Linked DNA regions of Homo sapiens. The protein of the gene in region 1 purifies or fractionates together with the protein of each later gene. This does not show direct contact. Each region holds a gene or a part of one and is shown in the gene's direction. Other genes may lie near its edges. The genes, in order: PPT2, IARS2, SUPT5H, MRPL23 and PC.

The links.
Region 2: the proteins of PPT2 (region 1) and IARS2 fractionate together in Homo sapiens (co-fractionation; one large-scale study listed by BioGRID). This does not show direct contact.
Region 3: the proteins of PPT2 (region 1) and SUPT5H fractionate together in Homo sapiens (co-fractionation; one large-scale study listed by BioGRID). This does not show direct contact.
Region 4: the proteins of PPT2 (region 1) and MRPL23 fractionate together in Homo sapiens (co-fractionation; one large-scale study listed by BioGRID). This does not show direct contact.
Region 5: the proteins of PPT2 (region 1) and PC fractionate together in Homo sapiens (co-fractionation; one large-scale study listed by BioGRID). This does not show direct contact.

The regions. Positions count from the first base shown.
Region 1 is NC_000006.12:32,156,253-32,162,309, forward strand, and holds part of PPT2 (lysosomal thioesterase PPT2 isoform a precursor), read left to right. Parts: intron 1-1,384; coding exon 1,385-1,468; intron 1,469-1,587; coding exon 1,588-1,672; intron 1,673-6,057. UniProt on the Homo sapiens protein: Catalyzes the cleavage of thioester bonds from S-palmitoyl-CoA or S-palmitoyl-N-acetylcysteamine (unbranched structures) but does not have activity against palmitoylcysteine or palmitoylated proteins, branched structures or bulky head groups.
Region 2 is NC_000001.11:220,134,824-220,140,880, forward strand, and holds part of IARS2 (isoleucine--tRNA ligase, mitochondrial precursor), read left to right. Parts: intron 1-1,985; coding exon 1,986-2,088; intron 2,089-2,340; exon of another isoform or gene 2,341-2,443; intron 2,444-3,094; coding exon 3,095-3,220; intron 3,221-4,184; coding exon 4,185-4,316; intron 4,317-5,359; coding exon 5,360-5,466; intron 5,467-6,057.
Region 3 is NC_000019.10:39,471,374-39,477,430, forward strand, and holds the end of SUPT5H (transcription elongation factor SPT5), read left to right. Parts: coding exon 1-130; intron 131-231; coding exon 232-357; intron 358-1,035; coding exon 1,036-1,120; intron 1,121-1,436; coding exon 1,437-1,556; intron 1,557-1,638; coding exon 1,639-1,741; intron 1,742-1,829; coding exon 1,830-1,957; intron 1,958-2,042; coding exon 2,043-2,148; intron 2,149-2,589; coding exon 2,590-2,748; intron 2,749-2,860; coding exon 2,861-3,029; intron 3,030-3,141; coding exon 3,142-3,345; intron 3,346-4,707; coding exon 4,708-4,803; intron 4,804-4,882; coding exon 4,883-5,026; 3' UTR 5,027-5,297; downstream 5,298-6,057. UniProt on the Homo sapiens protein: Component of the DRB sensitivity-inducing factor complex (DSIF complex), which regulates mRNA processing and transcription elongation by RNA polymerase II.
Region 4 is NC_000011.10:1,949,551-1,955,491, forward strand, and holds part of MRPL23 (large ribosomal subunit protein uL23m), read left to right. Parts: intron 1-1,348; coding exon 1,349-1,471; intron 1,472-2,576; coding exon 2,577-2,659; intron 2,660-3,231; coding exon 3,232-3,305; intron 3,306-5,941.
Region 5 is NC_000011.10:66,864,182-66,870,238, reverse strand, and holds part of PC (pyruvate carboxylase, mitochondrial precursor), read left to right. Parts: intron 1-1,274; coding exon 1,275-1,393; intron 1,394-3,889; coding exon 3,890-4,052; intron 4,053-6,057. UniProt on the Homo sapiens protein: Pyruvate carboxylase catalyzes a 2-step reaction, involving the ATP-dependent carboxylation of the covalently attached biotin in the first step and the transfer of the carboxyl group to pyruvate in the second.

The DNA.
Region 1 (6,057 bases):
GCGCCATCATGCCCGGCTAAGTTTTGTATTTTAAGTAGAGATGGAGTTTCGCCATGTTGGCCAGGCTGGTCTCGAACTCCTGACCTCAGGTGATCCACTCGCCTCGGCCTCCCAAAGTGCTGGGATTACAGGTGTGAACCATTGCACCTGGCCCAGAATGTTTTAAGTGTGTCACCTTATTGCCTTAGAAGGTTTAGTCTGATGTGGGAGTCAGCAAACCTTGTCTATAAAGGGCCAGAGAGTAAATATTTTTGACTTTGTAGGACATATAGTCTGTTTCACAACTCCTCAATTCTGCTGTTGTAGTGTGAAAGCAGCCATGTACCATATGTGAATGAATGTGCCTGTGTTCCAGTAAAACTTCATTTACAAAAACAAGTAGCAGGCTGGATTTGGTCCTTTGGTCACAGTTTGCCAACCTCTAGACCAGACCATGGGGCCAGAATACTTGGGTTTGAATCTTGACCCTATTGGGTGCCTTTGGGCAAGTTACTTAACCATTCTGTTACTCAGTTTTCCTTATCTGTAAAATATTATAGCATGTACTTCACCAGGTGGTTGTAAGGATTAAATAAATAAATGAATGCAATGTACTTTGAATAGTACCTGGCTCATATAGTAGATACTAGATAGAAGTACTTGCTATTGCCAGGTGTGGTGGCTCACACCTGTAATCCCAATATCTTGGCAGGGGGAGGTGGGCGCATCACCTGAGGTCGGGTTCGAGACCAGCCTGGCCAACATGGTGAAACCCCATCTCTACTAAAAATACAAAAAAAATTTAGCTGAATGTGGGCACACGCTTGTAATCCCAGCTACTCAGGATGCTGAGTCAGGAGAATTGCTTGAACCCGGGAGGCAGATGTTGCAGTGAGCGGAGATCCTGCCACTGCACTTCAGCCTGGGTGACGGAGTGAGATTTCATCTAAAAAAAAAAAAGTACTTGTTACTATGTTTACGGTTGTTATCACTACTATTATTATTTTGAGATGGAGTCTCACTGTGTCTCCCAGGATGGAGTGCAGTGGTGCAGTCTCGGCTCACTGTAACCTCCACCTCCTGGGTTCAAGTGATTCCAGCGCCCCGAGTAACTGGGATTACAGGCATGCACCACCACGCCTGGCTAACTTTTGTATTTTTAGTAGAGACAGGGTTTCGCCATGTTAGCCAGGCTGGTCTCAAACTCCCGACTTCAAGTGATCCACCTGCCTCTACCTCCCAAAGTGCTGGGATTACAGGTGTGAGCCACCGCACCTGGCCTACATTATCACTACTATTTTATTACTATCCACCTTGACTATTGCTGCAGCTTCCTTATTGGGCTTTTCACCACCAGTCTTGCCTCCCTTTTCTGCTTCTTTTTCTAACTGCTGTTTGTACCCAGATCCCCACCACGATGACTTGTACCTCAATGCCAGCAGCTTCCTGGCCCTGATCAATGGGGAAAGAGACCATCCCAATGCCACAGGTGAGAATTCAGGCTCCTACCTGTGTTGCTTTTTCTGCTTCTTTGACTCCCTATGTCTCCCTCTCCAACCTGGCCTGACCCCTGTGGCTGACTCAGCCTCTCTTCTTCCCATCCTACAGTATGGCGGAAGAACTTTCTGCGTGTGGGCCACCTGGTGCTGATTGGGGGCCCTGATGATGGTGTTATTACTCCCTGGCAGTCCAGGTAATAAGGGATTTTGTGGCCTGAAGATTGGCTAAAGACATCCCCCAACCCCAGTTGGTCTTTATCTCATGCCTAAACTGGCCTGCTCCTTCCACTGTTCAGTTAGTGCTCCTCCCCCCATTCATCATGTCACCCAAGACCAAAACCTGGGAGTCATATCCCAACCCCTTGTATCAAGCCAGTCACTAAGTCCTGCTGACTCTTCTCCTCTCCATCCCTATCACCCCCTCCCCCACTTTATAAAAACTTTTAATTTTGAAATTCTTATAGATTCATAGGAAATTGCAAAGATAGTATAGCAAGGCCCTTCACCCAGCTTCCCCCAGTGGTTGCATCCTATGTAATTATAGCACAGTATCAAAACCAGGAAATTCACATTGGTTCAATGTGTGTGTGTAGTTTTATACCATTTTATCACATTTCCTACCACCTCTTTACTTACCTGGACTATTATAACAGCCTCCAGCTTTGTCCCCTCCATCCTATTCCTTAGAAAAAAATCCATGGCTCCATGGTACTATGTGCTTGCCTGTGTTATAGGTCACCATGTGTGATCTGTAATGTCACCTGAGCTACTTGAATTGCTCAACAAATATTTATTCAACATTATGGGCGCAGGCTTGTTCTGGGCCCTAGGGATGCAGTGGTAAATAAAAGAGAAGTCCCTAATGTTATGTAGCTTATATTCTAGTTTGTAAGATAGCTGATACATACATACAAATATATATGTCAGGTAATAAGGCAGGGGAAAGGATTAGAGGATGTCCGGGGCCTAGTTTCAATAGTGGCCGAAGAAGTCCTCCTGGAAAAGTCACCATTCAATTAGAGACTGAAGGAAGTGAAGGAGGGAGTTGTGCTCTGGGTGGAAGAACCCCCCAGGGAGAAGGTCTGGCACCTGCAGAGGCCCTGAAGCACGTGTGAGCAATAAGGAGGCCAGCATGGCTAGTGCACAAGGAGCTGGGGAGAGGACAGGAGAGGAGCTAAAAGTGGTAGCAGGGGACCAGGCATGTCAAACCTTAGCAGGTCAAGGTAAGGCCCTTGATATTTTTTTTTCTTTTTTTTGTGATAAAATATACATAACATAAAATTGCCATTTTAACCATTTAAAAATGTACAGTTTTGTGGCATTAAGTATACTCACATCATTGTAAAACCATCACCCATCAGCACCATCCATCTCCAGAACTTCTTTTTCCCCAAACTGAAACCGTATACCCATTAAAAAATAGACTGGGTGTGGTGGCTCACGCCTGTAATCCCAGCACTTTGGGAGGCCGAGGCAGTGGATCACCTGAGGTCGGGAGTTCGAGACTAGCCCGACCAACATGGAGAAACCCTGTCTGTACTAAAAATACAAAACTAGCTGGGTGTGGTGATGCATGCATGTAATCCCAGCTACTTGGGAGGCTGAGGCAGGAGAATCGCTTGAACCTGGGAGGCAGAGGTTGCAGTGAGCTGAGATTGCGCCATTGCACTCCAGCCTGGGCAACAAGAGCGAAACTCCATCTCAAAAAAAAAAAAAAAAAAATATATATATATATATATATATCCTCATCCCTATTTCCCGACAGTCCCGGTAACCAGGCTTTTGATTTTTTTTTTTAAATTCTGAGTGAGATGGGAAGGCACTGGACAGTTTTCAGTGAAGGCAGGACATCTCTTAAAATATTGTAATAATATAATAGTAAGTGATGAGTTTTATGTACATCATGTCATTTCACATCTACCACAACCCTATGAATGACAGTGATAGCTCATGGTTATATAACATTTTTCATGTTCCAAGTCACTGTTTCTTCCTTTTTTTTTTTTTTGAGACAGAGTTTTGTTCTTGTCGCCCAGGCTAGAGTGTAATAGCACAATCTCGGCTCACTGCAACCTCCGCCTCCTGGGTTCAAGCCATTCTCCTGCCTCACCTCCCAAGTGGCTGGGACTACAGGTGCCCACCACCATGCCTGGCTAATTTTTAGTATTTCTGGTAGAGACGGGGTTTCACTGTGTTAGCCAGGATGGTCTCGATCTCCTGACCTTGTGATCCGCCTGCTTCGGCCTCCCAAAGTGTTGGGATTACAGGCGTGAGCCACTGCGCCTGGCCAATATATATCTCTCTCTATATATAGATAGATATATATTTTTTGAGTTGGAGTCTTCGCTCGGTCGCCCAGGCTGGAGTGCAGTGGCGTGATCTCGGCTCACTGCAAGCTCTGCCTCCCAGGTTCACGCCATTCTCCTGCCTCAGCCTCCTGAGTCGCTGGGACTACAGGCACCCGCCACCACGCCCGGCTAATTTTTTTGTATTTTTAGTAGAGACGGGGTTTCACTGTGTTAGCCAGGATGGTTTCGATCTCCTGACCTCGTGATCCACCCGCCTCGGCCTCCCAAAGTGCTAGGATTATAGGCGTGAGCCCACGCACCCGGCCTTGCCTGGCCAATATTTTTTAATTAAAAGATTTTAACTCCATCTGGCTGGGTGCGGTGGCTCACGCCTATAATCCCAGCACTTTGGGAAGCCGAGGCGGGTGGATCACCTGAGGTCAGGAGTTCGAGAACAGCTGGCTAACATTGAGAAACCCCATCTCTACTAAAAATACAAAAATTAGTGGGCCTGGTGGCGCACGCCTGTAGTTCCAGCTACTCAGGAGGCTGAGGCAGGAGAACTTGAAACCAGGAGGCGGAGGTTGCAATGAGCCGACAGGGTGCCACTGCACTCCAGCCTGGGTGACAGAGCAAGGCTCTGTCTCAAAAAAAAAAGAAAAAAAGGATTTTAAGACCTTTCTATTTTGAAATAATTTCATACTTAAGAAAAGTTTGCGCCTGTAATCCTAGCACTTTGGGAGGCCGAGGCATGAGCCCAGGGGTTTGAGACCAGCCTGGGCAACATGGCAAAACCCTGTCTTTACCTAAAATACAAAAATTAGCTGGGCGTGGTGGTGTGCCCTTGTAGTCCCAGCTACTTGGGAGGCTGAGGTACGAGAATTGCTTGAGCCTAGGAGGCCAAGGCTGCAGTGAGCCGAGATCTCACCATTGCACTCCTGCCTGGGTGACAGAGTAAGACCCTGTCTCAAAAAAAAAAAAAAAAGTTACCAAAATAGCAAAAAGCAGTCATTTATACTCCTCACCTAGATTTCGCAAATGTTAACATTTTGTCATGTTTACATTAATATCTTTTTTCTCTAAATATATATACATTTATTTATATACGTTAATGTTATATTTAAATATAAACATAGATTCAAATTTTCCTGAATATGCGCTCACAGATTATTCAAATTTTTCCAACTGTCCTTACAGAAAAAAATATACAGTGGAAGATCCAAATCAGGATCTTGAGTTGCATGATCTTGTTACGTCTCTTTAGTATCTTTTTGTTTGTTTGTTTGTTTGAGTTGGAGTTTCACTCTTGTTGCCCAGGCTGGAGTGCAATGGCAAATCTCGGCCCACTGCAACCTCCGCCTGCCAGGTTCAAGTGATTCTCCTGTCTTAGCCTCCTGAGTAGCTGGGATTATAGGCGCCCACCACCATGCCCAACTAATTTTGTATTTTTAGTAGAGACGGGGTTTCTCCATGTTGGCCAGGCTGGTCTTGAACTCCTGACCTCAGGTGATCCACCCTCCTTGGTCTCCCAAAGTGCTGGGATTACAGGCATGAGCCACCACACCTGGCCTCTTTTTTTTTTTTTTTTGAGACAAAGTCTCACTCTGTCGCCAGGCTGGAGTGCAGTGGCGCCATCCCGGCTCACTGCAACCTTTGCGTCCCAGAATCAAGCAATTCTCCTGCCTCTGCCTCCTGAGTAGCTGGGATTACAGGCGCCCACCACGCCCAGCTAATTTTGTATTTTTAGTAGAGACAGGGTTTCTCCGTGTTGGCCAGGCTGGTCTCGAATTCCTGACCTCAGATGATCCACCCTCCTCGGCCTCCCAAAGTGCTGGGATTACAGGCTTGAGCCACCACGCCCAGCTAATTTTGTATTTTTAGTAGAGATGGGGTTTCACCACGTTGGCCAGGCTGGTCTTGAACTCCCGACCTCAGGTGATCCGCCGGCCTTGGCCTCCCAAAGTGCTGGGATTACAGGTGTGAGCCACCTCGCCCGGCCAGTAATGCATTTTTGATGGGGTTTCTACAGAAGTGAGGTCGTATCTTCAGTGTATCACCTCATGAAGTACATTATATCCAGTAAGGTAGTTTTGAGTGTCCTCCCTGCTACCTGTCTCCCCAGTAGGCCTTGGGTTCCTTTGGGACCTTAGCCCACCTTGATTTCTTCCTTTCTTTTTTCCTTTTCTTTTTTCTTTCCTTTTTCCTTTCCTTTCCTTTTTGAGATGGGGTCCCGCTCTGTCACCCAGGCTGAAGTGCAGTGGTGCGATCTCGACTCAATGCAACCTCCACCT
Region 2 (6,057 bases), on another chromosome or scaffold:
ATGGTGTGGTCAGAGCTCGCTGCAGCCTCCGTCTCCTTGGCTCAAGCAATCCTCCTGCTTCAGCCTCCTGAGTAGCTGGGATTACAGACATGCACCACCACACCTGGCTAATTTTTAATTTTTTTTTAGAGGTGCGTTCTCCTCCCATTGCCCATGCTGGTCCCAAACTCCTGGCCTGAAGCAGTCCTCCTGCCTTGGCCTCCCAAAGTGGTAGGATTATAGGCGTGAGCCACCATGCCTGGCCTAGAACTAGATCTTGATCTATGGTAAAACTTGACTAGGAGGAATGTAGGGAAGGATATTCAAGGTTGAGAGAAGACAGCCTGAGTGCAGATGTCCTTTATATTTGTAATATCCACAGTGGCTAGTGAACTGAAACATTGCTTTCATGAATTTTATTAAATTAGGTATTCTCATTTAGTACACATAATTACTTTTTCAAACGTGTGGGTGAAAGTACTAATCAGAAAGATTCCTAAATAGCTTAGCTTAAGATTGTGGCTCTCTTAGGATAAAAACCCATCCCAGAACATTTCACATGTTTCTTTTTTTTTTGAGATGGAGTCTTGTTCTATTGCCTAGGCTGGAGTGCAGTGGTGCGATCTTGGCTCACTGCAGCCTCTGTCTCCCGGGTTCAAGCGATTCTCCTGCCTCAGCCTCTCGAGTAGCTGGAATTACGGAGCATGCCACCATGCCCGGCTAATTTTTGTACTTTTAATAGAGACGGGATTTCACCATGTTGGTGAGGCTGGTCTCAAACTCCTGCTCTCAAGGGATTCACCCTCCTGAGCCTCCCAAAGTGCTGGGATTACAGGCGTGAGCCCCCACGCCTGGCCCTTTTACATGTTTTTGTTTCTTAACATGCGTTTTAAAGACCAGTAAAAGGGCAGATCCTATTTTTTTCAAATTGTCTTTTGAAAATAATTTTGAGATGATAATCTGCTCTTTTTAAGACATACTTTTTCCTGGTTTTATTTTTTCATTTAAAATTTTTTTTTTTTTTTTTTTTTAGTGAGTTATATAGTTTTTCCGCTATCACCACAAGAGGTTTTATAACATTTCCAACACACTAAAAAGTTTTCTCATGCCCATTTGTGACTAATCTCCACTCCCACCCCAGGGCCCCTGGCAACCACTGATCTCCTTGCTGTCTCTGTAGTTTGCTCTTTCTAACCTGGTTAGTTTTAATGATAAAATCAGTACATAGCAGAAGCTCAGAAAATAATCTGTTTAGTGATGAAAATATCTAAAGTTTTCCTTTGTGTAAGTCGAGAGTTAACTGTTTGACTATTGTGATACATGAGCTAAGAATGACTTTTTTTGTTTGAGATGGAGTCTTACTCTGTCTCCCAGGCTGGAGTGCAGTGGAACGATCTCAGCTCACTGCAATCTCCGCCTCTTGGGTTCAAGTGATTCTCATGCCTCAGCCTCCCAAGTATCTGGGACTACTGGCACACACCACTATACCCAGCTAATTTTTGTATTTTTAGTGGAGACAGGGTTTCACCATGTTGGCCAGGCTGGCCTCGAGCTCCTGGCCTCAAGTGATCTGCCTGCCTTGGCCTCCCAGAGTGTTGGGATTACAGGCGTGAGCCACTGCACCCAGCCGAATTTGACTTTTAAGGAAAGGTTTCGGCCGGGCAGGGTGGCTCATACCTGTAATTCCAGCACTTTGGGAGGCCGAGTTAGGTGGATCCCCTGAGGTCAGGCGTAGGTAGGAGAATCCCTTGAACCTGGAAGGCAGAGGTTGCAGTGAGCCGACATCATGCCACTGCACTGCAGCCTGGGCAACAAGAGTGAGACTCCATCTCAAAAAAAAAAAAAAAAAAAAGAGAAGAAAAGAAAAGAAAAGGTTTTATTCATAATCAGTCAAGAAAAATCATATTTTTGTGTCAAACTTAGATACTCTTTTTAAGCTGTACCTAATCTTCAAAAAGATAATTATAATTGTGTTTATCATTAAAATAGCTGATTTGTCCCTTTAGGACAGTGATTGTTCATGGATTTACCCTTGGAGAAAAGGGAGAAAAGATGTCCAAGTCTCTTGGGAATGTCATTCATCCTGATGTTGTCGTTAATGGAGGACAAGTAGGTGATTCTCTAAAATGTATTTTATTTTCGTTTTAAGGATCTTAAATTGGCAGCCAAAGCCCTTAATATAGTTACTTCAATGTAAAAATAAAAACTATCTTTTATACTCTCAAATAACACATGATTGTAATGAAGAAGGCAGAGGCTGGGATTGTGGTCCTTTTAACTTATTTCAGGCCTGACTCTCCAGTTAGGTCCCAAACCACGCTGTTTCTTTTTTAATTGTCTGAGAGCCTTTAAAATGTGTAGATCCTTTTGTGATTCGTAAGCGTGATGATTGGGTTTTCGCACTATTGTGTGAGGTGTGCCTCCCTCAAACCTTGTTACAGTGTTGGCACATTGCTGTCTGAAGTGAAAAAAGAATATGTAAAGTGTGATTGTGTAGTTAAATGGAAATGATGAAAAATGAGATTGCAACTTCAAAATGCGCATTTCATTATTATATTGTTGAAAATTATACACTTTAAAGCAGGTCCTAAATGTACATCAAATCTGAGGTTGCTGATAATTTGGGGGGGTTTTTGGAGCTGCTTTTGTGAATTAAATCATTTGTCTGTTTTTTTCTATTTTTTAACTCCTGTAGCTTTTTACTGCCCGCCTAACATCCTGTAACCGTTCATTGTTTTGTGTACAGAGTTGCTAGGAAATAGTGAAAGGAAAAGCAGTCCTTCCTCTTCCCCTCCCTTATTATAGAGACCTCCCTGGCACTGCTGTGTGTCTAACCACCAGCTGTAATAGAGGAAACAGACATGACCAGGGAAGAGATTAGGTATGAGCATTTGTGCATTGAACAAGATTGCAGAGCACGCTCTTTCTTTTTCCAGTTTTGTTTTTAGATACAGTCTAATTTGAGATTGTTAGCCCGCATTTCATTACAGTGCTAGTATAGTTTGTACTTACATTGTGCTCAAAAATATCTGAATAGGAGCTTTACCTAAAACATTTGTTCGGCTAATTGGAATTGAAAGCCATTGTGTTTATATATTTTTTTCTCAATGAAAAGGATCAAAGCAAAGAGCCTCCGTATGGTGCTGATGTCCTTCGCTGGTGGGTAGCTGATTCCAATGTCTTCACCGAAGTTGCAATTGGCCCATCCGTGCTCAATGCTGCCAGAGATGATATTAGCAAGGTTAGAACTATTATTCTTCCTATTTCTAAAGGACAAGTTTGTCAAATCATTGTTTTAAAAAATGAGACACATTTTGTTTGGAACTGAAAAAAACTGAATGAAAACGAGTTCTTCATTTATTGTGAGATTTTAAGAATCTCCTGTGTTGGCCAGGCATGGTGGCTCATGCCTGTAATCCCAGCACTTTTGGAGGCAGAGGCAGGTGGATCACGAGGTCAGGAGTTCGAGACTAGCCTGGCCAACATAGTGAAACCCTGTCTCTACTAAAAATACAAAAATTAGCTGGGCATGGTGGCATGCACCTGTAGTCCCAGCTGTTCGGGAGGCTGAGGCAGGAGAATCACTTGAACGCAGGAGGCGGAGGTTGCAGTGAGCCGAGATCGCGCCACTGGACTCCAGCCTGGCGACAGAGCAAGACCTTGTCTCAAAAAAAACAAAAAACTCCTGTGTAAATTTATTTGTTTCAAAACATTGGTAGTAATACCAGTAATTTTATATAATTTGTATATAATATCCTTTATATTTTATTAATATATAAAATGTAATATAGCATAGTATAGATTATATTAATTTTGTATACTTTTATGTACTCAATAACCTTTCACATTTTTCCATGTATCTTTATTTCATTGTGAAGCAAGTGAAATAACATTATTCTGACCCACACACATGAATAAACTGGGCTACTGAAAGGTGATTTGCCCCAACGTAATAAAGAAATATAATGAAAATTCAGTCGTTAGGCGTAAAATCCAGTGGTTGTTCCTATAACTGGGCTATTGGAATAAGAGTTTGTTGTGTACTTTTTGTTTTTTATTTTTTTACATTTGTAGTCTTATTTGGAATGATAATAAAAATACCCCACTAAGAAAATGACAAGAGTTAGTAATAAAATAACTTTTCAGTGAAAATTGAAGGCACCATTAGATTTTTTTAACTGCATATTTTTTCTTCCTATGAATAGCTTAGGAATACACTTCGCTTTCTTTTGGGAAATGTGGCTGATTTCAACCCAGAAACAGATTCCATCCCTGTAAACGATATGTATGTCATAGACCAGTACATGCTACACTTACTGCAGGATTTGGCAAACAAGGTAAATGTAAATTAATAAACTTTTGGAAACTAGAAATATCAGCACTATTGTAGGTTAAAATTTTAGTTTTATCTGAGTGGAACAGACCTTGCTGGAAATAGTAACTATAGCACTCTTGAAGAGAAATATGTCCAGACTTCCCCTCGGACCAGATTTTTCTCTCATGATTAGCTCTATTTTTCCAACAAGAAGGAATAAAGTGGAGTTATACTTTATCTGCACATGTGCTCCTCATAATAAAGTACAGAAATAACCAAAATGGACTATCCTATTTGTCTCATAAGATACTTACTCATTTTCATATAGACTTAAATAATTTCTGTTTTCTGGCTGGGTGTGGAAACTCACACCTATAAATCCTACTACTTTGGGAGGCCGAGGTGGGAGGATTGCTTGAGGCCAGGTGTTCAAGACCAGCCTGGGCAACAGAGCAGGAACCTATCTCTAGAAAAATTTTAAAAATTAGCCAGGCGTGTTAGCCAGTGCATGTAGTCCCAGCTCCTTGGGAGGCTGAGGCAGGAGAATCGCTTGAGCCCATGGTTTTGAGGCTGCAGTGAGCTGTGATTGTGCCACTGCACTCCAGCCTGGTTGACAGAGTGAGACCCTGTCTTAAAAAAAAAAAATTGTGTTTTCTCATAATTGGAAATGTGTTTGCATTAGTGTACCCTTAAGTCAGAGGTGTACATACCAATTTTGCCCAAATCAAAAATAAATGAGGCATAAATGAAGGAACACTAATGAATTGTTGGTGACGTCCACTGTTTGCTGTTGTTAAAATGGTGTGATTTTGTTATTTACAATCTCATTCTTTCCTTAATTAATGTCCTTTCGTAGTTCTCAGAGTAAAATAGTATTTTCTGAGTGTAGTCAAATGTGTTATCCAGAAATGACATTTGGAAGATTCCCAGGAGTTCTTGCATATTGCCTGTTTTGTATTTGTCTCATTGAAACATATTTTTGAAAGGAGCATATTTTGCTTGTGATGACTTACATTTTCATTTGCCTGTCTCAGCTTCCAAATTTATTTTGGCTTTGTTCCCTAGATTACCGAATTATACAAACAATATGATTTTGGAAAAGTTGTTCGGCTGTTACGGACGTTTTATACCAGAGAGCTCTCTAACTTTTATTTCAGTATAATCAAAGATAGGTATGTATGACTAAATATTAAAATGCTTAACAATGGCCAGGTGTGGTGACTCACGCCTGTAATCCCAGCACTTTGGGAGGCCGAGGCGGGTGGATGACATGAGGCCAGGAGTTCGAGACCAGTATGGCAAAATACAAAAATTAGCCGGGCATGGTGGCACATGCCTGTAATCCGAGTCACTCAGGAGACTGAGGCACGAGAATCGCTTGAACTTGGGAGGCGGAGGTTGCAATGAGCAGAGATTGTGCTGCTGCACTCCAGCCTGGGTGACAGAGCAAGATCTCGTCTCAAAAAATAACAACAACAAAACCTCAACAAGTATTTTTTGAGTGTCTACTTGTGTTTGGCAACCGTCAGGGATACAGTGATGAGCAAGATGGGCAGTGTTGTGCAGTTATTAAGATTGGGTTCCGGGCCAGGCGTGGTGCCTCACGCCTGTAATCCCAGCACTTTGGGAGGCCGAGGCGGGCGGATCACGAGGTCAGGAGATCGAGACCATCCTGGCTAACACAGTGAAACCCCGTCTCTACTAAAAATACAAAAAATTAGCTGGGCGTGGTGGCGGGTGCCTGTAGTTCCAGCTACTTGGGA
Region 3 (6,057 bases), on another chromosome or scaffold:
GAAGGTGGTGACTGTCAGACATCAGGCTGTGACCCGGAAGAAGGACAACCGCTTTGCTGTGGCCTTGGACTCAGAGCAGAACAACATCCATGTGAAAGACATCGTTAAGGTCATTGATGGCCCCCACTCAGTGAGTACAAGTTCCTGCTTTTGAGCTGCATCTGAAAGAATTTGGTTGGTTGGGGGTGAGGGGGACATGGTCAAGAGAGTGACCCTTCTCTCCCCGGCTAGGGCCGAGAAGGGGAGATTCGCCATCTCTTCCGAAGCTTCGCCTTCCTACATTGCAAGAAACTGGTGGAGAACGGGGGCATGTTTGTCTGCAAGACCCGCCACCTGGTGCTGGCTGGGGGCTCAAAGGTGAGGTGGGCATGGCAGGACCCTGTGCGTTGGGTACCTGGCTCAGCTCTCCAAGCCTCCTCTGGCCCCAGAAGTGATAAGATTGGGCTTGTGAGGGATTAGGAGAGCAGTGTCATTGTCAGGTCCTTGGCAAAGAGTGAGAAGGTTTATTTGGGATTCTGAGCTGTTCACCAAGTTATTTTAAGTTATTTATTCATTTCATTTTACTGAGCACCTGTTAGGTGCCAGACACTGGAGAACCAGTGGTGAACAAGACAAAAATACTCTGCTCTCACAGAGCTGATACTCTAGAGGTGGACAGACAGATAAACCCATCGTACAGCTTGAGGTGATAGCAAGCGCTGTGAAGAAAACAGAATGGGCTCAGGAGACAGGGAGTGACCAGGGCTGCTGTTTTAGACAGAGGAGGGTAAAAAAGGCCTCAGTGGGAGGCAGTATTGGAGCAGAGACCTGAATGAAGGGATGGAGAGTGAGCATTTTGGGGGAACAGCAAGTGCAAAGGCCCTGAGGTGGGGCTTGTAGGAAAGTGTGCAGGACCAGCTGTCACAGAGGAATTCAGGCCTGGGGTGTGGGTGGCTGGGTGGTCTCCTCAGGGCCCTGCACGTGGGATGATGAGTTCCTGTGGTTTGTGGTTCCCCCATCCCCTGCCTGCCAGTTCACTCCTTGCTTCTATCCTAGCCCCGTGATGTGACCAACTTCACCGTGGGTGGCTTTGCGCCTATGAGTCCCCGGATCAGCAGCCCCATGCACCCCAGTGCTGGAGGTGAGAGGGGTTCAGGGTCAGGGGATGTGGTGGGTAGAAGGGGCTGGAAGGAACTTGGTTGTTCAGCCTACACTCACTGAGTGCCTGTGCTGGGCTGGGCACTGCTATTAGGGGTTCACCACCCACAGGAGGGTAGACGCCACAGTGACAGCCCAGAATGGTCAGGGCTTCCATAGGAAAGCCATGGGGCAGGGGTGGGCAGAGGAGGCTCTTAACCCAAGTAGGGAGGAGTCAAGCAAGTGAAGGGGACGTTCTGATGGTGCCCTTGCTGTGGGCACAGCCGTGGGGGACCAGTGACATTCTCCCCAATCCCCAGGTCAGCGTGGCGGCTTTGGTAGCCCAGGTGGCGGCAGTGGTGGCATGAGCAGGGGCCGGGGCCGGAGGGACAACGAACTCATCGGCCAGACCGTGCGCATCTCCCAGGGGCCCTACAAAGGTGACCTGCGAGGCCTGTGGAGGCCTGGGGAGGGGCATGGTGAAGGAGAGCCTGCCCAGCCTGACCTCCTGTCCCCCTGCAGGCTACATCGGTGTGGTGAAAGATGCCACAGAGTCCACGGCCCGTGTGGAGCTGCACTCCACCTGCCAGACCATCTCTGTGGACCGTCAGCGGCTCACCACGGTGTACGGGCGGGGCCTGGGGAGGGCCAGGGTGGGGCTTGCTAGGCAGTGAGAGGGGTCTGCTCACCCCATTTGTTCTCTGCGTCCCCAGGGGCTCACGGCGCCCGGGCGGCATGACCTCGACCTATGGGAGGACGCCCATGTATGGCTCCCAGACGCCCATGTATGGCTCTGGCTCCCGAACACCCATGTACGGCTCACAGACACCCCTCCAGGATGGTGAGTGCCCGCAGGGGACAGGGAAGAGGGGCTAGGGGGACCTAGAGAAGGGACAGGACAGACACACTCATTTCCCCCATTCCAGGTAGCCGCACCCCACACTACGGCTCACAGACGCCCCTGCATGATGGCAGCCGCACTCCTGCCCAGAGTGGGGCCTGGGACCCCAACAACCCCAACACGCCGTCACGGTGAGTCCAGGGTTCCCCAGGTTCTGGTGTGTGCTGGTGTGTGTGAGGGATGATGCTGGGTGTCTGGGGCATTGGAGGGGTTTGTGGGGCCCACCCAGCATTCTCTGCTCCTAGCCTCAGGCTGGTCCCTTTGAAGGAGGAGGCATAGCATGGCGGGGCGGGGGCAAAGCGGCCTCCTCTCCATCCCCAACCTCAGTAGTGATTGTGGTTACCCTTGGGCCTGGAGAAAGACTGCCTGGGTGGAGTGACCTTGGGAGGGCACCCTCATCTCTGTCAACCACAGTGTCAGCTGTGGAAGGGAAATAACATCAGGAGTGCCTCTGGATGGGGCTCCCGTGAGAATGAAATTGCTTCAGTTGGGGGTCTGGTGTAGGGTGCTGTTCTGGAAGCATCCATCGCATTATCACCACAGTCGCTGTCAACAGACTTTTCTCCCAACAGGGCTGAGGAAGAATATGAGTATGCTTTCGATGATGAGCCCACCCCGTCCCCGCAGGCCTATGGGGGAACCCCCAATCCCCAAACACCTGGCTACCCAGACCCCTCGTCCCCACAGGTCAACCCACAATACAACCCGCAGACGCCAGGGACGCCGGCCATGTGAGTCCACTGGGGCCTGCCCTCGTCTACCCCTGCCCAAACCCTCCTACTGCCACCACCTCTTTTCCCCTCCCTCCTCCAACAAATGCCCCCTTCTCTCCTGTCTCTGCAGGTACAACACAGACCAGTTCTCTCCCTATGCTGCCCCCTCCCCACAAGGTTCCTACCAGCCCAGCCCCAGCCCCCAGAGCTACCACCAGGTGGCGCCAAGCCCAGCAGGCTACCAGAATACCCACTCCCCAGCCAGCTACCACCCTACACCGTCGCCCATGGCCTATCAGGTAATGGTCTGCCTGCCTGCCCTGAAGGGTGGTGGGCTAGGGTGACTTTGGGCATATAGGGTCGGCCAGGCCAGATGACTATTCCCAATGACACTTCCTCTTTCCCCTGCAGGCTAGCCCCAGCCCGAGCCCCGTTGGCTACAGTCCTATGACACCTGGAGCTCCCTCCCCTGGTGGCTACAACCCACACACGCCAGGCTCAGGCATCGAGCAGAACTCCAGCGACTGGGTAACCACTGACATTCAGGTGAAGGTGCGGGACACCTACCTGGATACACAGGTGGTGGGACAGACAGGTGTCATCCGCAGTGTCACGGTACGTGGGGCCCAGGGTGGTGGGTGAGCAGGCATCCTCTCCTTGGTACCCCCTAAACTGGAGACAGACCTGTCCCCAGATGGTGACAGCCCAGAGTGGGCAGAGCTGGGATTGAGGAAGCCTAGAGGGCAAGGGGAGCTATGTGAACCCAAAGGAGGCATCTTACCTGATTTAGCGGGGAATCAGGGAGGGCTGCCTGGGGAAGGAGAAATCTGAGCCAAGACCTGACAAATGAATAGGAGTAAGCTAAGGAAAGTGACTGGGGTGAGTGAGTTCCAAATGGAGGGAACTGCATGTGCAGAGGCCTGGAGGTGAGGGGAACCTGGGCACATTCCAGGAGCTGAAGGGTTTGTTGTGGCTGGAACATAAAGAGCCAAAGGGGGCCAAGCAGTGCTTCACACCTGTAATCCCAGCACTCTGGGAGGCCGAGGTGGGCAGATCACCTGAGGTCAGGAGTTCAAGACCAGCCTGGTCAACGTGGTGAAACCCTGTCTCTACTAAAAATACAAAAAAAAAAAAAAAAAAAAAAAAAGCTGGGCATAGTGGCGCATGCCTGTAATCCCAGCTACTTGGGAGGCTGAGGCAGGAGAATCGCTTGAACCCAGGAGGTGGAGGTTGTGGTGAGCCGAGATCGTGCCACTGCGCCCCAGTCTGGGTGACAGAGCAAGACTCCTCAAAAAAAAAAAAATGGTGAGTGATGAGGCCAGAGAGTTGGCTGGGGCCCTGTCATGCACCAGCCTGGAGGACCTAGACTGTCCAGAGGGCGCCGGAGAGCCATGAAGGAATCTAAGCAGGAGAGGGGTGGGAGCAGATCTGTGGTATGGAATTCTCCATCAGTGATGGATTGGGGGTGGGGAGACTGGGCTGGGACCCCAGGGGGAGGTTGGGCTGCACTGGGGCAGGGCTGTGGGGAAGAGGCAGGAGGCAGGTGGGAGAGACCCTCACGGGCTGAATGGCCAGGCCTCAGAGCTAGGGGCTTGTTGGTGAGGGAGGTGACCAAGATGAGGTCCAGAGCTCTGGTGGGGCCTGCAGACCATGGGGCGGTCCCTGAGACCAGGTCCAGGAAGAGGAGCAGGTGTGGGGAAGACGCTGAGGCCAGTTTGGGACATGAAGAGTCAAGAAGCAGTCTCCTTTTTGCCTGTTAGCTTCATTCTGATGCTTCCCTTGCTGATTGGGTCACCCTGTCCACCCTGACATGCACCACAGGCCCCAGGCCTTGGAACCAGGCCCAGCCTTGGCCTTTCCTGCCCCCATTTCACCTTGAGTTCTCAGAATGAGCCCTGAGCCTGTGTCCCCTGGAGTATGGGCCTCAGTCCCATGTTGGGAGCAGGACAGGCTGACCAGGCTGTCCCCATCCTCCAGGGGGGCATGTGCTCTGTGTACCTGAAGGACAGTGAGAAGGTTGTCAGCATTTCCAGTGAGCACCTGGAGCCTATCACCCCCACCAAGAACAACAAGGTAAGGGCAGGGGGCAAGGAGATAAGATGGGGCCGTTGGGTGCTGACATGGACCCTGACCATATTCCCCCCACCCCCAGGTGAAAGTGATCCTGGGCGAGGATCGGGAAGCCACGGGCGTCCTACTGAGCATTGATGGTGAGGATGGCATTGTCCGTATGGACCTTGATGAGCAGCTCAAGATCCTCAACCTCCGCTTCCTGGGGAAGCTCCTGGAAGCCTGAAGCAGGCAGGGCCGGTGGACTTCGTCGGATGAAGAGTGATCCTCCTTCCTTCCCTGGCCCTTGGCTGTGACACAAGATCCTCCTGCAGGGCTAGGCGGATTGTTCTGGATTTCCTTTTGTTTTTCCTTTTAGTTTTCCATCTTTTCCCTCCCTGGTGCTCATTGGAATCTGAGTAGAGTCTGGGGGAGGGTCCCCACCTTCCTGTACCTCCTCCCCACAGCTTGCTTTTGTTGTACCGTCTTTCAATAAAAAGAAGCTGTTTGGTCTAAAAGTGCGTGTGTGTGTGTGTGTGTGTGTGTGTGTGTGTGTGTGTGTGTGTATGCCGTGGGAATGAGGGTGTTGTTTTTAAGTGGGGTCATTTGCAGACCCCACTTCCTTGCTTTGTGGTTGGGGCAAATAACTGGACCCTACCTAAATCTGTTTTCCCATCTAGATAATAGTGATAGTGCCTGCCCCAGAGAGCTCTTGAGGGGAGTGTGTATGAGAAGACGTCGGAAGGAGATGATCAGAGTAGAGCTTGTCATGTGATTGATGACATTATATCTTATTCAGGCATGAATTATGCTAAGTGAAAATCACAGTATCCCCCAGGAAACCTAAATTCCTCCTGTGGTGCAGGATACAGTGCTTGATGGTCCTTTTTCTTTGTTTTCTCTTTATTTTTATTTTTTTGAGATGGAGTCTTGCTTTCTCACCAGGCTGGAGTGCAGTGGCACGATCTTGGCTCACTGCAACCTCCGCCTCCCGGGTTCAAGCGATTCTCCTGCATCAGCCTCCCCAGTAGCTGAGATTACAGGCGTGCACCACCACACCCAGCGAATTTTTTTGTATTTTAGTAGAGACAGGGTTTCACCATGTTGACCAGGATGGTCTTGATCTCTTGACCTCGTGATCCGCCCACCTTGGCCTCCCAAAGTGTTGGGATTACAGGCGTGAGCCACCGCACCTGGCCTTTTTTTTTTTTTTCCTCCCCTGAGACAGAGTCTCTCTCTGTCATCTAGGCTGAAGTTCAGAGGTATGATCTCGGCTCA
Region 4 (5,941 bases), on another chromosome or scaffold:
CCACCCAAGGCCTCTGACCCTCACTTCCTCCTCATCTTCCCTAGACAGGCAGAGGCCAGCGTGAAATTCATGTGAAGCCTGGGGCAGCGTTGGCCTCACGGAGCCCCTCTTAACTTGGTGCTGGGTGCTCCCAAGGCCAGGGCCATGTGCAGTGCCTCAGATAAGGCCACCAGAGACCCCTCAAGAGCCCCTGTGCTCCCCGTCCACCAAGACCTGCACCTAGGCTCTCAGACCCCACATCCCCCGAGACCCAGCAGGCCTGAGTTTCTCCTGTGCCCCTCCTCCCCCCAGCTCTGAGGCCCAGATAGAGCCAGGGTGTGCCGGCAGTGGCAGGGGCGGGAACGGGGGTGGGGGACGGTAGGACGGTGCTGCCTGTCCACCCAGCTGAACGTGGGAGAATGCACGAAACCAACTGGCTAGAGATTCTGCACGATCGTCACCTGGCCCCCCAGCCCAGGCAGCGTGCTGGTCTAGTTTGCGGTGGCCACTTGGCACCTCTCCATCTGCCTCTGCTGGCTTTTAGTGGAGTGCTGGGGTGTGGTGCACTCAACTCACATTTAGTGTACTGAATCAGAGTCTTGGCAGCACCGTCTTCCAGGAGCCTAAGCCTGGTTAGCCTGCGTTCTCCATACCGAGGAGCTAGGCCCTGCTGCCACCGGGAGAGTGCGGAGCTGGCCTTTTCTGTCCCATGGTGTGTGGTTCTCTGCAGCTCCACTTCACCCGAGCAGCAGGAGAGTGGGCCGGCCGCGTGGGGTCTGCTCTCCCAGGGGTATCAGTGCCCCAACACACGTCTTTGAGCCTTGCCATCAGCTTATTGGGGGAATGCTGTCTGCGGGGTTCTGATTTTTGTCCATTGGCCTTTTCTAAAGTCTGACCTTGGGGGTCAACAGCGCATGCTCCTTAAGTCGATGCTAGGGACTGGCCGTCCACCTTGGCAGGCCCATGTGAGAAAGGGGCTGTGGGGACCTCTGTGTCCTTGGGTGGTGACCTGCTGATAGCTACCCCGTTTCCCGCCCACCCCTGTTGTGAGTGGACACGCGGGGGTCTGCAGGGTTAGCTACCCTGTTTCCCGCCCACCCCTGTTGTGAGTGGACACGCGGGGGTCTGCAGGGTTAGCTACCCTGTTTCCCGCCCACCACTGTTGGGAGTGGACACGCGGGGGTCTGCAGGGTTAGCTACCCCGTTTCCCGCCCACCACTGTTGGGAGTGGACACTCAGGGATCCGCAGTGTTAGCTACCCCCTTTTCTGCCCACCCTGTTGTGAGTGGACACTCGGAGGTCTGCAGGGTTGGTGTGTCGGGCTGCCTTGGCCTAAGTGTGTGACATGGACCCAATCTCTTCTGTACAGGTACCCCCTGTACCGGCTGGGTGGCCCACAACTTCGGGTGTTCCGAACCAACTTCTTCATTCAGCTGGTGCGGCCCGGTGTGGCCCAGCCCGAGGACACCGTGCAGTTCCGGATCCCCATGGAGTGAGTCCGGGAGGATTCCGGCTGGGGTTGGGGAGCACCCTCGGGGGGATCCCCGTGGAGTGAGCCCGGAAGTTTTCCCGCTGGGTTGGGAGAGTGCCCTCAGGGGGGCCTGGGTCCTGAGTTAAAACAACTCTGCTCACGTGCTAGCCTCTTCCTGCTGGGAAGGCACCTCAGGCGGCCCTGCCCGGCAAGTATTGATGGAGTGCCTGTAGGTGTGGAGCCCGGCAGGCAGGCTGCACGCCGCCCTCCACCCGGGGACGGCTTCACTGGAAGCCTTAAAATTTGGACCTCTGTGCTCGCGTCTTCTGTTGAGTTCTTGCAGCTTCTTTTTAGGAGAGGCGCCCTGAGAGGCTGGGTTGGGAGCAGGCCGTGATGTACAGAACCGCTCAGAAGAGCCTGCTTGACCTTCAGAGAAATGCACAGTCCCTACGAGCAAAACTGGGGTGCTGCTCTGCAGTGTTTAAGTTCACAGGTCCCCAGCTCAGGGTTGATGCGAGCCAGGCGGGGCAGCAGCGTGAGCTCCCCTGGGGGCGAAGGTCAGGCCTGTGCAGCCTGCAGGGGCCCAGAAGCTGAGTTGACAGTGACCGTGAGGTTCTGCAGTAGAGGGAACTTGCAGTTAACGCACCGAATGCCAGGCAGGCCTTTCCAGAAGGTACTTCCTAGAACCGCATCAGTCCCATCAGCCGCAGAGCAGGCCTAACCCTGATGCGGCCACTGGGCCCCGGGGCAGACGAGGTGGGGCACCTGCCAGCCAGGAGCGTGCAGAGACTGTCACCTCCTCTCACAGGCACTTGCCCGGAGCAGGGAGCCATGTGGGGCTGTGGAGCAGGCCAGGGGTTGGTTGGGCAGTGCTCCCACTCTGTGGGGTCTGTGCCACTGCCACCCCATGCTGGTGTGCCCAGAGTAGGGAGTCTTGCAGCCAGCAGCACTGGTGTTGCTGGGGCTGCCTGGCCTCACTAGTGCCGCTGATGTACCCAGCCCTCCTCCCTGCCCCCTGTGGGTCTTGGTCTGTCGGCCTCTCAGCCTCGGGTGCTTGTGCATCTGGGACAGTATTTTTGGCTTTTAGCCTGGTTAAGATGCCGTTTTCTTTCTCCTTCGCCTCCAGAATGACAAGGGTGGACCTCAGGAATTACCTCGAGGGCATCTATAACGTGCCCGTGGCTGCTGTGCGGACACGGGTGCAGCATGGTGAGTGCCCATGGGAGGTTCTCCTGTTGGTGTCGTGCCCATCTGTGCCACATGCCCACCTCGCCGAGCCACAGCCTCAGCTACTGCATGGGGGTCTTGGTCTGACGTGGCTCATGGGAAACTGAGGCACAGGGTGACTTGTCAGGGTCACACGGTGCTTACGTGCCAGAGCAGGGATTGGAATTCAACTGGGCTGGCCCGGGGTCCATTCTGAGCCCTGACTCCTGCCGTCAGCCCCCGAGGTGGGACTGCAGTGGCTGAGGCTGGGGAGCAAAGCGCTGTCTGTTCCATAAGCCCCTGTCGTGTGCCCTGGCTGGTGCCACGTCCGCTCCTTTGTTGAGAACCTGCTGGCCTCTGTTGGGAGAAGGGAGGAGCCTGGGAGCCTGCTGTGCTGGCTCGTTTGATTACAGTGCCCATTTCCCTGAGAAATCGCCTTTTTGAGTTTTTAAAAACATATTTACATTTTTAAGAGAGCAGAGGTTCGTTTTAGTGGCATTGACCTCTGAGGATGTAATTTTTTAAAGTTCTGATTTTTTTAAAGTTCTGATTTTTTTTTCACTCCCTTCCGGCAGGCTCTAACAAGAGAAGAGATCACAGAAACGTGAGGATCAAGAAGCCGGACTACAAGGTCGCCTACGTGCAGCTGGTGCGTGTGAGCTGGCCAGCCCCAGCGGGGCCTCCGAGGGGCTCCTCGCAACTGTGTCCTTGGGGATGTTTGTGCCGGAGACGCTGCGCTGGGGCCCAGGGAGCCCCCGTGAGGCCGGATCTCAGGGCCTCAGCGCAGAGGCAGGCTCCACATAAGGTCATGCTCCGTCACGGCCTTGGGGGTGTTAGTGGTGGCGCTGGGAGCACGTGAGCACTGGGGCACATGGGGCACGTCTCAGCGTCCGGCCGTTTTGTGATTTTGAAGTTTGAATTCTCTGTGGGCAAAGGCAGCCATCACAGGCCTAGTGGGTTTCAACTCCAACGCACACCAGGGTGTCAGAGCATGGGAGGCCCCGGCCTCTGGAGAGCCTGTCCTTGGCTGGGTTTCAGCCTCGGAGGCAGAGTGTGAGGCCCCTGAGGGCAAAGGTCTTTGGTGCCAAGGCAGGTCTGGCTGGCCGGGCTGTTGGCTGAGGCCCATGTCCTGCATTGCAGGGTAGCAGGTCCCACGTACTTGTTAGGGCTCAGCAGGCTGCTTCTGAGCAGGTGCTTTCTTACGTATCCTGGGGGGCTCTGGGGAGGAAGAACCCTCACCCCACGTTGCCTGGGCCTTCAGTTTCTGAAACCCAGACTTGTCAGGAGTGAGACCCACAGTTTCAAAGCCTTTCTTTGGGCTCTTCATTTTGAGTCCCAGGCAAACCCAGAGGCACTTTCTCTCTGGGCCAAGATGTCCACAGCCTGCCCCGGCCGCCTCCTGGGCCTCCCCACTCTGCCCCTGGGGCTGGCCTTACTGGGTGGGGATGGGGTTGTCTTCCGGTGTAAATGGTCCCTGGAGGCCGAGCCGGCGGGCCCTGCCACTAGATGGCAGTCACACGATGGTGGAAACCGCCTCCTGGGCCAGCCGGCCTGTTGTGGGGCTAAGGAGGCAGTTTGTGAAAAAGGCCAAGTTAGCATGGCAGCTTTTCTGAAAAACAGTCACATTTGTTGTTCTAAACAGGGGCCCCCGGAATAATTTGGCCTGATATTTGCTGTGCATGAAATCAGCCAATCCAGGTGGGGAGAGCAGCCGTTGGCCTCATAAAGGCCTCTGTGTGCTCAGTGTCAGTCGGGCCCATCTGTCTTTGTCATGGCATGTGGGTGGACATCCCGTGTGCCGGCACCGCCACGGGCACTTCAGAGGCAGCTACGGTTACAAGTGGCATTCAAGTCATCCGAGCCCTTGCGTTCTTCCTCTGGGCCCCACCTCCCATGAAAACTGAACCCAGCAGCTCCGGGATCCGGTGTCTGCAGCTGCTGCCCGCGTGTTGTTCTCCCTCTGTGAAGTCCAGGCAGCCAGAGACAGGGCAGGGCAACTGGGAGCCTGAAGGGTCCCAGTTGGGCATGGATCCTCCTGTTCCAGAATGAAAATTTGTAACGGGTCCTCACCCCCCTTCCTGAACTCCAGCACATCTTTGCACAGCCTAGAAATGGGCCGTGGCCGTTGGTCCCTGTCTGCCCGCAGAGGGGACTCTCAAGGCCCTTTCCTGTCTCGTGTCTGCTGAGACCTTGCTCAGCGTGTCCCCCTGGGCCCTGCGCCAGGGCTTAGAATCACTGCTAATTGCAAAGCCCAGGGAGGGAGCATTGGAAAGGTAAAATTATCCACGTTATTTGGAGTTGGCCGCTGTGGAAAGGCCCTGTCCCACGTGGCGGGAGTCCCACATTTCTTTCTCCGACAACCTGATAAGCATCTCCTTGGCCCAAAGTCCTGGGAGCTGAAAGCAGCGCCTCAGTGACCCACACAACAAAAAGACCATTGACTGCCCGCTGCCCCGAGGCTTGTGTGGATGCTGAGCAGCGCGGGAATGAAGGGCGCGCAGGAATGAAGGGCGCACGACATGAGAGGCAACTCCAGAACAAACCGCTGCCGCCAGCTGGGCCGAGCTCCGTGCTCGGGGCTCCGGCCTCCAGGTCCAGGCAGGCGGCAGCCCCCAGGGCGCCCTGGGATTCCTGAAGGCAGGGCTGCCTTGTTTACTTGTCATTGGGACATTTTTCTCCATTCCTGTTCTTTACCCCGATCAGCTGTCTCTCTCCTTTTTGGAAGGATCAAGGGCTTTTTTTTTTTAGGTACAAGGTGAACTCTTCTAGAAAGGGGAAGCCCCTGGGAAACCATGCTTGGCATCCCCAAACGGTGTTTGTCTCCTGTAAGAAACGGATTTTCTCTCAGCACCTTTCCCCATTTCTTCCCGAAGCTGTGACAAATGGCCATGTTTGTGCTTTAAACTGTCATTTTGGGTTCCCCTTGCCTCGGAAAACTAGCAGAATCACCTCCATATAGTCAAGGTGAATCTCCCATTCTGGGCAGTCAGCCTCACGTGTAAACGACTGCCCCTTGGTATTTTAAAAGACGCAAAGTTCAGAGCTGTGTAAGGCAATCCTCCTGCAGGCCGGCTACGGCGCACGCAGTGCCACTCTCCCCGCCAGCCCCTGCGCTCTGCGCCAGGGATCAGGGTGCATACACCTCCCTCGCAGGGTGGGATCTGGGCCTGTTTCAGATCATACTTGGCTGCCTGCCCACATCCAGATTTATTTACACACAAAGGGTCTGCAAGAGCCAAGTGTACCTGACTGATTTTACTCACTAAAGGGTTCCAGATTCGGGTG
Region 5 (6,057 bases), on another chromosome or scaffold:
TGGGGCGCTGGTTGGGGAAGGGGACCCTGAGTCCCCTTCTGGGGACTGGGGATGGGGAGAAGAGGGTGAAGGACTCTCCTGGGGGCCAGAAGTGGGTTTGTGGCATCCTTCCCATGTGCAGTTGAGGCACCTGGCCCAGAGGCCAAGCTTAGAGTCCAGGATGGCTGAGAAGAGGGAGGGAAGGAGCCCCAGCCGCCTCCTCAGCCCTGCTGCTACACAGACCTGGCTTCTCTGTGGCATCAGCTCATCCCTGTCATCAGGAGAATGAGATTCCGTGGATTCTGTCAAGATTGAGGACCATTATGAAGGCAGTCCTCCCTCATGTGCTTCTGTCTCCTACATCATGTTTATTATGATCTGTTTCCTTGCTCTGCACCCTCTGCCCATCTCTGCTTTTCTGGGACCTCTGGTCGGGGGGTCCTGGGCTGTGGAGGAGGCTGAGGTGGCAAGCTATCTCCCCACAGTGACCTGCCCCAGGACTGGCCTGGAGAGCACCTGCTGTGGCCAGGTGTGCAGCGGGGTCCTGCCCCCTCTTCTTCCCTGGCCTATAGGCAGCAGAGGATGCGTCACCTCCCCATGCCGAAGGCCGGGGTGTGCACTCTGCAGCAAGGCCTCAGCCACAGCTAATGCGAGGCATCGACCAGGGTCGCGTTTAAGTCAGGTCTTATTTACTGGCTTATACTATTTCACATTCCAGAACAGGTTTAAGGGAGGTGATTCAGTCTGGTTTATCGTTTTGGTGAGACCAAAAGTGAAACTGGAATTAGGGCTGAAATTTGAGTTAGAGTCATTATCTGTTGGTACCTCTCAAATGAATTTCTTTGGGTGGTGGTGGCCAGAGGTGACTGCGCAGTAGACTAGAAGGGGACTTTCTGAAAACACCTCCAAGCAGAAGCAGCGGCTGGGAGAGGCCTGGGTCTCCGTGTCTGGGTGGATGACACAGCCTTGGCGGGCAAGCCCAGGAGGCAGCAGGGCAAGGTGCCGAGCCTGGGATGGGTGGGGGCTTCTGCCCATGTCTCGTCCCAGATAAGCTGGGTGCAGCCATCTGTGGCTCCGGGAACCCTGGAGCCTAGTGGACTACTTGGGGGACGTGTCCAGGCAGGAGCATGACCTGGGCCCTGGGGTCTGTCTGCCATCTGTGGGGGCAGGGTTTGCCACAGGCCATTCTTTTACGGAACCAACCCAATGGGTGGGACGGAATCCCTGTCCTGAGTCCAGTGAGTTTGCCCAGGCCCTGCCTGTGCCCTCCCCTGCTCACGTGGCCGCCCCCACAGGTGGGCTACGAGAACGCAGGCACCGTGGAGTTCCTGGTGGACAGGCACGGCAAGCACTACTTCATCGAGGTCAACTCCCGCCTGCAGGTGGAGCACACGGTCACAGAGGAGATCACCGAGTGAGTGTGGGCGGGCAGGCGGGGCGGGAGGCGCGGCTTCTAGGATTTGCATAAAGTACAGGCGAAGTGGCTCCTGGGGCCAGCCAGGGGGCTTGCTCACTCCCCACATTGGTGGAGAGCAATGGGGATCCAGGTACTTAGTGTTTTAAAAGTCATTATTCTAAAAGCATTACGTGGTTATTATAAAAATCAGCACAAAGGAGCAAATAAAAATGACTGACAGCCCTCCTCTCTGTCAGGACGCTGCCGATTGCTCAGGCCCAGGTGCTCCCATCTGTCAGAGGAGTAAAGCAAGGCTCAGAGACATTTGGAGAGTTGCTCGGGGTCACACAGCTGGCGCTGGAACCCAGGCATCTCCGGCTGTCTTTGGTTTGCTCCTTTCCCGGTTTACCTGTTTTACTAGAGACATAGTTTGATGCAATAGAGATGTTTTATATAGAATTTTTATTCTACTTTTCAAATTATTTAATATTTGTTGAAGGCATTTCCCCAGGCCATAATTCTGTCTGAATACTTTTAGTGGCTGCGTACTATTCCGTCTTGTGTGTATTTCTTAACTTACATAGTCCTCGATTGTTAGGCAATTAGTTTGTGTGTCTGGCTTTGGTGGTTATTAAGCGTGTCACTTATCATCTGTGTGCCTGAATGTTTGGCTTCAGCTCTGAAGAGTTCTGAGGGTAAACCCTTCAACAGGATTATCTGATTGAAGGATAAGTAGCATCCCTCGGAACAGCCCTCTAGAGAGGTGGCACTAGCGTGCTCCCTGCAGGCACTGAGGATGACATTTTCAAAATCCGCCTGGTTTCTAAATGACAGTCATGATGGCCCTCACCCTTCAAGGTCTCTACTATGAGCCATGTAATTTCTTGACGCTGCTTTGGGCCAGCCCATCTCACTGTGGAGCATCCCTGACCCCAGTTCTGCCCCCAGCCCCAACCCCACCTGAGACTGAGGATGCTGTCGGGGTGGCTGCTGTGGCTCGCCGGGGGCATGGAGGCCCCTCCCTCCCCTTAGGAGAAGCTTAGAGACAAGGCCAACACTTTGGCCGAGTGAGACTCTTCCCCTCAAGCTGCTGTGAACTCCTCGGTCTTGGGTCTGCTTAGAGCGTCCTGTTAGGGATGGGAGTCTGTCTGCTGTGGAGCACGGGTTTTGTGTCAGACAGATTGGGGCTCAGGTGCTCTCAGGTCCCAAGCCACGTGGAGCCTGGGTGAGCTCCAACCTCTCTGACCCTCGAGCTCCTCCTCTGGTGGGAATGACAGGGCTCTCAGCACACCGTCGTGGAGATGAAGCATGGGAGGAGTGCAGCCTGGCCTGTGGCACTGAGTGGAAGCTGTCATCTCTGCTGCGAAGTGGGCCAGCAGGCAGCAAGAACACGGGGAAATCCTGCCAGTGTAGGTTCCAGGCTGCCTTCACCACAAGCCTCAGTGGCAATACATGTAAAACCTTGAGTGGTTTTTTTTAAGACATAGTCTTGCTCTGTCACCCAGGCTGGAGTGCAGTGGTGCAATCTTTGCTCACTGCAACTTCTGCCTCCCGGGTTCAAGTGATTCTCCTGCCTCAGCCTCCTGAGTAGCTGGGATTACAGGCACACACTACCAGGCCTGGCTAATTTTTGTATTTTTAGTAGAGACAGGGTTTCACCATGTTGGCCAGGCTAGTCTCGAACTCCTGGCCTCGTGGGATTCACCCACTTTGGCCTCCCAAAGTGCTGGGATTACAGGCATGACCTGCTGTGCCCAGCCTGGTTTTTTTGTTTGTTTGTTTTGTTTTTTAAACAGCTGTTCCACTTGGACTTGTGACTGCCCTTAGGAGCAGTAAGGCTGAGCTTGGAAAACCCTGCAGAGGTGGGGAAGCTTGCACTCTCCAAGCATCTCTAGGGGGTTTTGGGCACAAGTCCAGCAGGAAAACAGGCCTCAGAAGGACAGGTCCTGACCCAGCACCCACTGTGCAACCCTCTCACAGCTGTGGTTACCATTTCGAGGAGCCCAGCCTTCACAGCACCTGTTCCCTTGCACACTGCCCCCCTCACAACCACCCACACAGCATAGCACATATGGCCCCAAGAATGTGCTATCCTGGCCCTCTGACCTAGAGATCTGCTGAGGCTTCAAATCTAGGCTTTACCAAGGGGGAGTTTAGGGGAGTGGGGAAAACAGACCTCAAGGAAGGAGGAGGCAGAGTACAGGGAGGAGCAGCTTAGGGCTGTGTGGACGGCACCGTGAGTCAGGAATGCAGGAGCAGGTGGTCCTGGTATTTCAGCGGGCCATCTCCAGCTGCCAGGCACTGTGTAGTTTAGTCGGCTCCCGGCGGGAGCAGGGCAGGGGCTGGTGGAGCCACTGGTTGGGAGGAACCGGCTGTTCAGGCTGGCCCAGAGCCTATGGGCAGGAGTCGCACTGTGTGTGGACGCCCCACTGGCTGCGGTGCCCCTCGTCTATCCCCCGCCTCATGTTTCCCCCTTTCTCCCGTCCTTTCCCCCCTCCCCCCAATGCCCTACAGCGTAGACCTGGTCCATGCTCAGATCCACGTGGCTGAGGGCAGGAGCCTACCCGACCTGGGCCTGCGGCAGGAGAACATCCGCATCAACGGGTGTGCCATCCAGTGCCGGGTCACCACCGAGGACCCCGCGCGCAGCTTCCAGCCGGACACCGGCCGCATTGAGGTGGGCGGAGCTCGAGCAGAGGGAGATGCCAGCTCACCTGTGCACAGGTTCTGCCTGGTGCCTGGGGCTGCAGTGCCAAGTTGCCACAGCCCGGCAGTTAGGGAGGACCCGCATGTGGGCTCTGAAGTGGACATAGAGTACACGGAGGCAGGCAGTGCCCAGAGGAGGGGCGGCGCCTCCCAGGGGAAGAGACTGCTGGGCGCCCAGGTCAGGAGGAAGCCGTGAGGGTGGGAGCGGGGAGCAGGCTGGCTTGGTGGAGCAAAACGCAGGGACCCAGACACAAAGCCAGCCCCTGACCCTCCAGCTCCCACAGGAGCCCCACGCCTGGCTGCCGACGGAGCCCAAGCACCACCTCCCATCTGAGGGATGGGCTGACATGGCAGGACCTGGGGGTGGGGGTGGCAAAGGACTGGGCCCAGAGGTCCCAATGGAGTCTGAGCCAAGCTCAGGGGCCCATCAAGGATGGGGGAGGGAGTCGGAGATGGCGGCACAGGAGGGAGACCGAGAGGTAGATTCGGGGCCGCGAGATGGCAGCCTTGGTGGGGGAGAGAGTGGTGTAGGGGGCGCTGAGGCGGTCCACGGCAGGCTCCTCAGCACAGCAAGACTCGCGCCTTCTCCAGGAGGGCTCCCTGTACCTTTCTTCCTCTCAGCACCGGGACCCAGTCATTGGCCTCCGAAACCCATCTCCCCCGCCTCTGGTCCCAGCTGTGGGCAGGAGCCCTGCGGCCTGCTCGGTGCCTGTTCCCAGCCCTGCACGTGCTGCCAGCACCGTGCCAGCTGTGCTAGGGACTTGCTCCCTATCCAGGGGCCTGAGCCCCAAAGGAGGCAAGACATTGATGGAGCTCCAGCTTTGCTCCAGAGTCCAAGGCAGAGGCCCCCGGGCTTGTGTGGGGCGGTGAGGGGAGCAAACATGAGTTTGGGCCAGGCTCTGGGCTTCTGAGACAAGGGAGGCTGGGGAGGCTGGGGGTAGGGACCAGAGCTCTCTGGATTCTGGAAGCAGCAGAGCCTGTGGCTTCAGCAGGGAGCTGGCCACCTGCCTTCTGTTTCTGGAAGAGTCTGTAGGTGGCGGCAGCCCCAGGCTGAGTGCTGCCCGGCGGCCCCTGACTTCTCTGCCTCCCTCCATCCCCACTTCCAAGCCCTGGCTCTTCAGAGCCTGCCTCATCACAGAGTATTTTTAGCCGACAGTTTCTGCTCTCAGCTGAGTGTTCACCCTTAAATATTTTATGAAGTTCCTTTTTATTGAACACAGGCCTCTGCCCCCGAGAAGCGGAAATGGGCAGTGGGTGTCCCGAGCCCCTCTGGGCGGTCCCCCCACTCCCCTTCTTCCTTACCTGGGCCTGACGGGTCCCCCACCTCCGGGGAGCCCTTCTCTGCGGGGCTCACTCGGGCGGCACGAACAGGTGCAGGCGGCACGAGCCACCTGTGTGTGTGAGTGTCGGCGCCTCTGTCTCCTCCTCTCCGCTGCCCCTCCCATTGCCGTCTGGCCCTGGCCCTGTCCCGCTGCCCCGCTGCCCTCTCCTCGCCCTTGGTTTGCTTCCCTGATGGGTGTGGACCCTGCCTCTGGCACTTTCCCTTCATTTCCTCTCCCACTTCCTCCTCGTTGCCTCCTCTCCCTCCCATCCTCCCTTCTGGAAGGAAAGGAAAGGAAAGGAAGGGAGCATGGGTGGATGTTGAGGCCTTCCCCACCACCCTGTTAAAAACAAAAACAAACCCCCGGTCAGCCTTGCCTCTTGCCTCGCACATGGTCCTTTGGAGGCCCTGTCGCCGGCCTGCCGTCCCCTCGCTGTCTGGGAGCCCACGGCGAGGCCCTTTAGCGGCCGGGTCAGCAGACCTCAATCCGTGCTGTGGAACGAACGTGGATGAGTCTGAAAGGCTAGAGGGTTGCTCAGGCAGGTGCAGCAGGTCCGTGGGAATAGAGGCAGGGCTGGCCCCTGCCTGCCCGGGCCCCTCTCCCGCTCTGCGGCAGGCATTCCCTTCCTCCTCTGCCCCCTCCCAGCTCCTCACA